Homo sapiens: one gene and its partner. The protein of the gene in region 2 purifies or fractionates together with the protein of the main gene of each other region. This does not show direct contact. Each region holds a gene or a part of one and is shown on either strand. Other genes may lie near its edges.

Evidence for each region. The genes of interacting proteins can lie anywhere in the genome.
Region 1: the proteins of LRRC31 (region 2) and ATP2A2 purify together in Homo sapiens (affinity purification with mass spectrometry, with the first as the bait; one large-scale study listed by BioGRID). This does not show direct contact.

Annotation. Positions count from the first base shown.
Region 1 is NC_000012.12:110,326,247-110,329,746, reverse strand, and holds part of ATP2A2 (sarcoplasmic/endoplasmic reticulum calcium ATPase 2), read right to left. Parts: intron 3,358-3,500; coding exon 3,272-3,357; intron 2,195-3,271; coding exon 1,730-2,194; intron 1-1,729.
Region 2 is NC_000003.12:169,845,082-169,850,693, forward strand, and holds part of LRRC31 (leucine-rich repeat-containing protein 31), read right to left. Parts: intron 3,207-5,612; coding exon 3,039-3,206; intron 1-3,038.

The DNA of each region.
Region 1 (3,500 bases), on a different chromosome or scaffold from region 2:
AAATGATGGTCAAAAAATATAGGATGGCCGGGCGCGGGGGCTCACGCCTATAATCCCAGCACTTTGGGAGGCTTTCAAAAGCGGGTGGATCACTTGAGGTCGCGAGTTCGAGACCAGCCTGACCAACATGGAGAAACCCTATCTCTACTAAAAATACAAAAAATTAGCCGGGCGTGGGGGCGCATGCCTGTAATCCCAGCTACTTGGGAGGCTGAAGCAGGAGAATTGCTTGAACCCAGAAGGCGGAGGTTGTAGTGAGCTGAGATCGGGCCATTGCACTACAGCCTGGGCAACAAGAGTGAAACTCCATCTCAAAACAAGAACAAACAAACAAACAAAAATATATATGATGAATACACAGAATAAAGCAAGTTAAAAGCAATTTTAGTCAGCCCTCTGTACCTGTGGGTTCCACATCCACGGTCAACTAAACAGCAGATGGAAAAAATAACTGCATCTGTACTGAACATGTACATTTTTTTCTTGTCATTATTCCCTAAACAACACAGGTTAACTATCCCTAAACAACACAGTTTAACTATTTACATATCATTTATAATATTACGTTAGGTACTGTAAGTAATCTGGAGATGTTTTCAAGTATACTGGAGGATGAACAAGGTTATATGCAAGTACTGAACCATTTCATTTCAGAGACTTGAGCATCTGCAGAGTTTGGTATCTGAGGGAGGTCCTGGAACCAATCTCTAATGAATACAGAGAGATGACTATCTACTTTTTGAGAAAAAGCACGCTTCATTCAACATGTGATAGAAAAACCAATTAGGACTTCAGGTAGGGAGGTTAACTAGCAGCTTTCTCTAGAACTTGTCTATTAACATACACCTAGAGACAGAGGATCAGGAAAATTAGAAAGGAGGCTGAGTGTGGTGGTTCATGCTTATAATCCCAGCTCTTTGGGAGGCCAAGGCAGGAGGATCACTTGAGCCCAGGAATTCAAGACCAGCCTGGTGACATAGTGAGAACCTGCCTCTACAAAAAAAAATAAAAAAACTAGTGGGGCATGGTGGCATGCACTTGTGGTTGCAGCTACTTGTGAGGCTGGGGTGGGAGGACTTGAGCCTGGGAGGTTGAGGCTGTAAGTGAGCCACAGCTGTGTCACTGCACACTAGCCTGGGCAACAGAATGAGACCTTGTCTTTTTTCTTTTCTTTTCTTTGAGATGGAGTCTTGCTTGTCGCCCAGAATTGAGAGCAGTGGTGTGATCTTGGCTCACTGCAACCTCCGCTGCCCAGGTTCAAGCAATTCTCCTGTCTCAGCCTCTCGAGTAGCTGGGACTACAGGTGCACGCCACCACTCAGCTAATTTTTGTCTTTTCGGTAGAGACAGGGTTTCACCATTTTGGTCAGGTTGGTCTCAAACTTCGGACCTCAGGTGATCCACCCGCCTCGGCCTCTCAAAGTGCTGGGATTACAGGCGTGAGCCACTGCGCCCAGGCTTTTTTTTTTTTTAATTAAAGGAAAATATAATTTCTCTAATTCTCTTACATCTAATACAAGTATATCAGCCATACAGATATCCTGTATTTTGTGAAAGTTTTAGGAATTAAATGATTAGATCCTCTCAAATATTAGAAATTAAGCTCAGGCTATACATACAGCCCACAGAAATGTATGAAATTACAAATCAAAAGTTTTGATGGCATGAAGGCATATTGGTAGGATGAACAAAGAACCACGACACGGAATATTCTAAATTACTCCTCTTACCCTGCAGACTGACATCTGGTTTGTTGTAAGTGTACCAGTCTTGTCTGAGCAGATAACAGAAGTACAACCAAGGGTTTCCACAGACGGGAGGCTTCGAACAATGGCATTTTTCTTTGCCATTCTGCGAGTTCCAAGAGCCAGGCAGGTGGTGATGACTGCAGGCAGACCTTCAGGAATGGCTGCTACAGCCAGGGCCACTGCAATTTTAAAGTAGTAAATAGCACCTCTGATCCAGGACCCTCCATGAACCGGGTCATTGAAGTGCCCAATATTTATGATCCAGACTGCAATGCAAATAAGGGAGATGACTTTGGAAAGCTGTTCCCCAAATTCATCTAGTTTTTGCTGAAGGGGTGTTCTCTCCTGTTCTGTTGCCACCATTTCATCCCGGATCTTGCCAATTTCGGTGTTAACTCCAGTTGCTACCACCACTCCCATAGCTTTCCCAGCAGCAATGTTTGTACCCTAGGACAGAAGTAGAGAACTGGTCACAAGATGAATACCACATCCCAACTTAAATACCGACGCTGGTTTTTGACTAGGGCACCCAGATTCTCTACACATTCTACTAGGTCTTCCACTGGCTACTGTTCAAGCAACCAGCCATACAACTGTGACAACAAGCAATGCTCCATGTGCTACTTACTTATGTCAGGCAGCTCTGTACTGACCCACCTAGATTTCTATTTGAGCCCGGCTTGCAGACCATCTTCAAGCAGTGCTCTTAACCCCTCTGTGTTCCCAATTTTTCAAACTCATATAGTTCAACTCTAAGCATTCTCCACTTCTGGCTCCAACAACTCAAGGCCCCTACTTTTCTCACTGTAATAGAAACGGCAACTAGCCCCATGGGCTATCTTGACAACCCCTACTCATGTGACAGGGTCCAAAAACCAAAGAAATCAAATGTGAGCAGTCTCTCCCATGCCACTTTAATTCCTAGTGTTATAAGAGAAGGACATGGCTTCACTATTTTCAGGGTACCTCTATTTACTTACTATGGGTAGTAGTCAGGTTCTCATACAAACCCACAAATGTCCCCAACTTAAAATCATTTCCTCACTATTCAAAGAATTTTTCACATCAATAGAAAAAGTGAAATAGTAAAATGAACATTCATATACTTTGCACCTAGACTCACCATTATTAATGGTTTGCCATGTTTGCTTTCTCTCTCTCTCTAAACACGCACCTTTTTATTGTGAACCACATACAAATAGCAGCTGTCATCTACATCATTTTGAAAATACCCTTTATTGGCTAAGGCTTTTCCAAACAAATCTACTTTTCAACTATGTTTGCAGGTAAGAGTTTGAAGATGTATAAGCTAGTCATTATTTTTTGGTCCCCCAAAACTTGCCAATTAAAAGACATCTAAGTCACACGTTATGTTACTGCCATATTCTGACACCTAAGACTGACCATGAAAAGTGTGATTATCCTTTAGAATGATAGCCAGTGATGGTTGGCAGTGAAAAACATAACATTTGATTAGGCTTTGGAAATGTCTGTAAATAAAAACACATTTCATAAAGTACTTACAGAAAACAGCATGTTCTTTTTATCTTGGTTGACAGCTCGTGGGTCAGGGACGGGATCAGTGTGCTTGATGACAGAGACAGATTCACCTAAGCGGGTTGTGAGACAGAAAAAACAGATCTCTGCGACCCACACCAAGAACCTAGAACCTCTCATTCATGCCCACCCATTACCACTCTTGGGATACTGTTAGTGTGAGAAAAGGTTGGCAAAAGGCCCAATTCATTCAAAG
Region 2 (5,612 bases):
CAATTATATATCCACGTAACATTGGGAATCTAAAATTAAACAGTATCTTTTATAAGAGAACAAAAATTAAACACTCAGATATAAATTTAACAAAATATAAAAACTAGAAAACACCAGTGAAAGAAATCAAAGAGTACTTAAATACAGAGATAGACTGTGTTCATGGATTGGAATACTCAATATTGTTAAGATGTCATTTCTCCCTGAATTGATCTATAAATTCAATGTAATCCCAATAAAATTTCCAGATGGATTTTTAAAATAGATATTGACAATCTGATGCTAGCTTTAAATGGAAATGCTAAGTAACTAGAATAACCAAAACAATTTTGAAAAAGAAACAAAGAATACTTATACTACTTCATTTCAAGACTTACTATAAAGTTTCAGCAATCAAGACAGCGTGATATTGGTAAAATAAGAGACACAGAGATCAATAGAACAGAACTGAGAGACCAGAAGTAGGCCATCACAAATATGGCCAATTGATTTTTCACAAAAATATAAAGGCAAATCAATGGAGAATGGATAGTCTTTTCAGTTAATGGCACTCAAATAATTGGACAGTAATATGCAAAAATATTAACCTCTACCCATACCTCATACCTTATATAAAAATTAACTCAAAATAGGTAATAGGTCAAAATATAAAATGCAAATACAAAGCTTTAAGACAAAAATATGGAAAAAATCTTTGAGAACTTAGATTTGCAAAACGCTCTAAGATGCAACACAAAAAAACTCTATTCATCAAATTAACAAATTGATAAATCTTTATCAAAACTGAAAGCTTTGATCTGCAAAAAAACACTATCAAGAGAATGAAAAAGCCAGTGGGACAGACCCAGAGAAAATAATAGCAAATTATATTTCTGATAAAGGACTTACTTGTATTCAGAAAAATCTAAAAAACTCTCCAAACTCATCAATAAGAAAACAAACAATCCAATTTTTTAAATCAGGCAAAAGATTTAGAACAGACATTTCACCAAAGGAGCTAAGAAATGAAAATACACACATAAAAAGATGTTTGACATCATTGGTCATTAGGGAAATGCGAATTAAAATCACAATGTTTTGTCCCCATCTTCTAATTACAATCATTTTTGCTATAACACTTGTTTTGAAAACACAAGTTTATTTCAATGAGATTGAAATGTCAGGAAACAATCTGAGTATAATGCAAATTTCTTGTTTGCATTATGCACACAATTTGTCCACAGGAAACACTAGGTGAACATATAAAACTGTCCCCAGCTGAATTGAGCTGCATATAGAAATAAACAGCCTGGGCACGGTGGCTCACGCCTGTAATCCCAGCATTTTGGGAAGCCTAGGCGGGTGGATCACCTGAGGTCAGGTGTTTGAGACCAGCCTGGCCAACAGGGCGAAACCCCGTCTCTACCAAAAATACAAAAATTAGCCAGGCGTGGTGGCATGCCTCTAATCCCAGCTACTCAGGAGGCTGAGGCAGGAGAATCTGTTGAACATGGCAGGCGGAGGTTGCAGTGAGCCAAGATCATGCTACTTCATTCCAGCCTGGGTGACAGAGTGAAACTCTGTCTAAAAAAAAAAAGAAAGAAAATGCAGACATGCACACACCTCATGAGGACAACAACCCTCATCTCTCCACACACCCTCTTTCCACCAATGGAAGTGTGGACAGGCCACTTCTACAAACTTCAGGTCTTTCTCGGGAAAATGTAATATTTGCTCATTTCTTAACTATTTAATATGTAAAACTGTATTGCTATTTTTCATAGCTTCTGTTTTTTAAAATATGCCACTGATGAAGTGTTTGAGTGCGGTGCTTCCAACCGTAAGTCCTGTGGTTATTACTGAATAATTCTTGCATAACACATGATTTTTAGGCCCATGTGCCGTGTCATAGCAAAACTGACTAATATATACACTGAGAACACAGATACAACTACCTGGAGTGACTGTTCTGGCCCTTCATTGGGAGGCGCGCTCATTGCTTTGGAATTCCGGCTGAATAGTGATTGGAGTGTGGGGACAAGGCTAGATGGGAGCCAGAGAGAGTACTCTCTGATTCATTGTTTTATAATGGGAAAGTGGAAACATAGAATGAGTTTTTTATTTTGTTTTGTTTTGTTTTTTGAGAAGGAGTTTCGCCCCTGCTGCCCAGGCTGGAGTGCAGTGGCACGATCTCAGCTCACTGCAACCTCGGCCGCCCAGGTTCAAGTGATTCTCCTGCCTCAGCCTCCCGAGTAGCTGGGATTACAGGCATGTGCCACCATGTCCTGCTAATTTTGTATTTTTAGTAGAGATGGGGTTTCTTCATGTTGGTCAGGCTGGTCTTGAACTCCTGACCTCAAGTGATCCGCCAGCCTCGGCCTCCCAAAGCGTTGGGATTATAGGCGTGAGCCACCGTGCCCAGACACATAAAATGATTTTAGGGAATATTTGGGTAGCCTCAATCCCACAGTGCAAAAGTTATTCCTTATTCAATTATCTTTCCATCTTTCTAGACTGACATGGAAAAAGGGTCAGATTGTTACTACAGTATGCCTTTAACCCTCTCATCTTTTTCTAATAGAGAGGAGCCTCTAATCAAAGCCATCAGCAGTCTAGTATCTGTGAGAAGTGATACCTGTATTTCAGTTACAGTGATAATCAGTTTCCTGTTTAAATAAAAGCATTTAAATTAAAGAGTCAATTTAAAGGAAAAGTTAAGCAATAGTGCTGGAACCATGTGGATGGGTGAGATGTAGATGACTGAAGTGGGAACACTCACGGACCGCGGAGGTGTGGAACAGAGCTGTTTGCCTTTCAGGAACCTCCCCACCTATCTATATCCATATCCTTTTAGGAAATGCCTTCCACTGTCATGTGGTTTTAGAATTGCCTTCGCTCATTTTAATTAGACCTCTCGGCAGATGTTGGTGAGAAGGGAATCTGCACAGAGGGCTTCACCCCAGGTCTGGTACCTCCCCCACCTCCCCACCTGGTGCTTTGCAGGGGCCGCACCCACTGCTCTGTTTGCCAAGACCGCTTGGGAACAAGTAGATACACACCCAGGAGAGCCACATCCTCTGTCACCAGGGAACAGCTGCTCAGCCTCAGCACTTGAAGAGACATGGAAAGCTTTAGTGTTTCCAGAAGCAGCTTCAAGTTGCCACCAACACACTTGTTCCAAGAAAGGTTGAATACTTCCAGAGCAGAGAGGTGAACAGAGGCTTCAGCTAAAAGTGATAACAATACGAACAGCAGTAATTTAGGATTTCTTACAGATCATAGGCTTTGGATTTGAGGAAACTGGTCTAGGACAACACATGAATATAACTGGGGTTGAGAAAGTTGTAGAGACCATTTTCTTCTGCCTTAAATTTATGGCCTCAATTTATGTTGTCTGTTTTTTGTTTTTTGTTTTGAGACAGAGCCTTGCTCTGTCACCAGGCTGGAGTGCAGTGGCGCGATCTTGGCTCACTGCAACCTCCGCCTCCCGGGTTCAAGTGATTCCCCTGCCTCAGCCTCTCGAGCAGCTGGGGCTACATGTGCGTGCCACCACACCCAGCTAATTATTTTTGTATTTTAATAGAGACGCTGTTTCACCATGTTGCCCAGGATGGTCTCGATCTCCTGACTCAGGATCCGCCAGCCTTGGCCTCCCGAAGTACTGGGATTACAGGCGTGAACCACCGCGCCCAGCCTGTTGTCTGTTTTTATTTGGGGAAATATTGGAAACTTTAGCAATGCAAAACTTGATAAATTGGAATTCACTGTCCAACTGGGGTTTCTTTCCTTCACTTCACATGTAGGAAGGAGAAAGAGGCAAAGTGCTTGGACAGCTAGTCAAGATTTCCAGAATGTGTCCTGGTTGGTACATATTTCACTGCACAGTCACTGCTGAGATTCAGATGGGGGCAAGCCTCCCTCAGAGTCTGAAATACCAAAACTTATTTGTATTTACTTCACGCAATTACTGCAGGCAAGGAAAGTAACTAATGTATTTTGGAAAGATTTTTAAAGAAAAGTAAAAGATTTTCTGCTTAATTCTCAGTTGCCCCCAATGTTAAAATTAACCAGAATATCTTATTCCCAAGTTAATTGCACTTTAATCTATTCTGCCTTCCTTCTAGAAAATAATGTGTTCAAGGGGAAAATATATATCCTTTTATAATATCTAGTAAGAAAATCCTTACAGAGATCTACATTAAGGAGAAATGGAACTTTTTCTTCTAAAAGTGATGTAGGGAAATATATATTTGCTTCATTTACTTAATTCAAATTGAATGGTAGATTTATGTCAGATGATATAATTTAGTGTGATACCTAGTTGATCATGATTCATTGATTGTGCAGCTAGAATTAGAAACAGCTGTGCCTTCTAATGGCTGCAATTCCTTTAAAAAAAAAATATTTTCCCAGAATGGGCAACATGGTAAAACTCTATCTCTACCAAAAATACAAAAATTGGCCAGGTGTGGTGGCATGTTCCTATAGACCCAGAAGCTACTGAGGAGGCTGAGATGGCATAATCACTTGATCCCAGGAGTTCAAGGCTACAGTGAGCCATGATAGTGCCACTGCACTCCAGCCTGGGCAGCAGAGCAAGACCCTCCCAAAGTACTGGGATTACAGGTGTGAGCCACTGTGCCTGACCCAAGTCCACGGTTCTCTACTGGGGGTTAGTCATCTAGCTACCCTCCGCTCAGCATACACCAAAATTCCATCCTCACAAAAGAAAAGCTCATGTTCAGCATAAACCATGTTGTCTGTGCAAACAGGTTAGGCACAGTAAACCACCCTTCTCAGTTAGGAAATGGTATGAACACCCCCAGATTCCAAGTTCTGGGATATTAGCTAAGGGCCAGCCTTACTGGTTGATAGCAGGCCTTTACAGGGATAGCAGCATCAGGCCTGCTACGTTAACTCTTTTTTGCCCCCATACACGTGATTGGAGTTGCTGGATTTGGGTGCTTCCTGGATAATGCTAAAAACAGAGTCCTTCTCTCCAACCCTCTCACCAGTGTTTTTTATCAGTTGGCACTTCCTTAAAAATGAATTGTACTGTCCACCAGACAAGGGCTATTATTAATGAAATAAATGCATTAAATTCATAAAAATGAGTAATTATTATTATACATTAATAAAAATAAATGCATATTATTTACCCCCAAATTTGAAGAACTCTATATTTAGGGCATTCTTGCCCTCCTTTTCGGCCTGAGTATTTGGCTCAGCCTGAGTATTTTGCTCAGCTCGAGTATTTTGCTCAGCTCGCATAGACTTGGTCCTCACCATGTCCTGCTCCCAGCACTCCCTCAGCATCATTCATCCCATTGTCCACATGTCTGGATGGGGAAAAGTCCCAGGATACGTAGCCTTCAGCCCTGCTGTTCTAGGGCCCATGGACCCACCAGACAAGTCTAGGTATGCTTGAAGGGGTGCCTGTGAGCTCCCTAAAACTGATTACAGTTATTCTGTGGGGAAGAGTATGGTACATTTTCTGTATGCAAAACATCTGGAATTAGACTTCCTGAAATCAAATCCTGCCTCTGGCTCTTATGACCTTGGGTTACCTCATGTACTTAACATCTCTGTGCTTCAGTTTCCTTGTCTGCAAAATATAAAATGGAACAATGGCA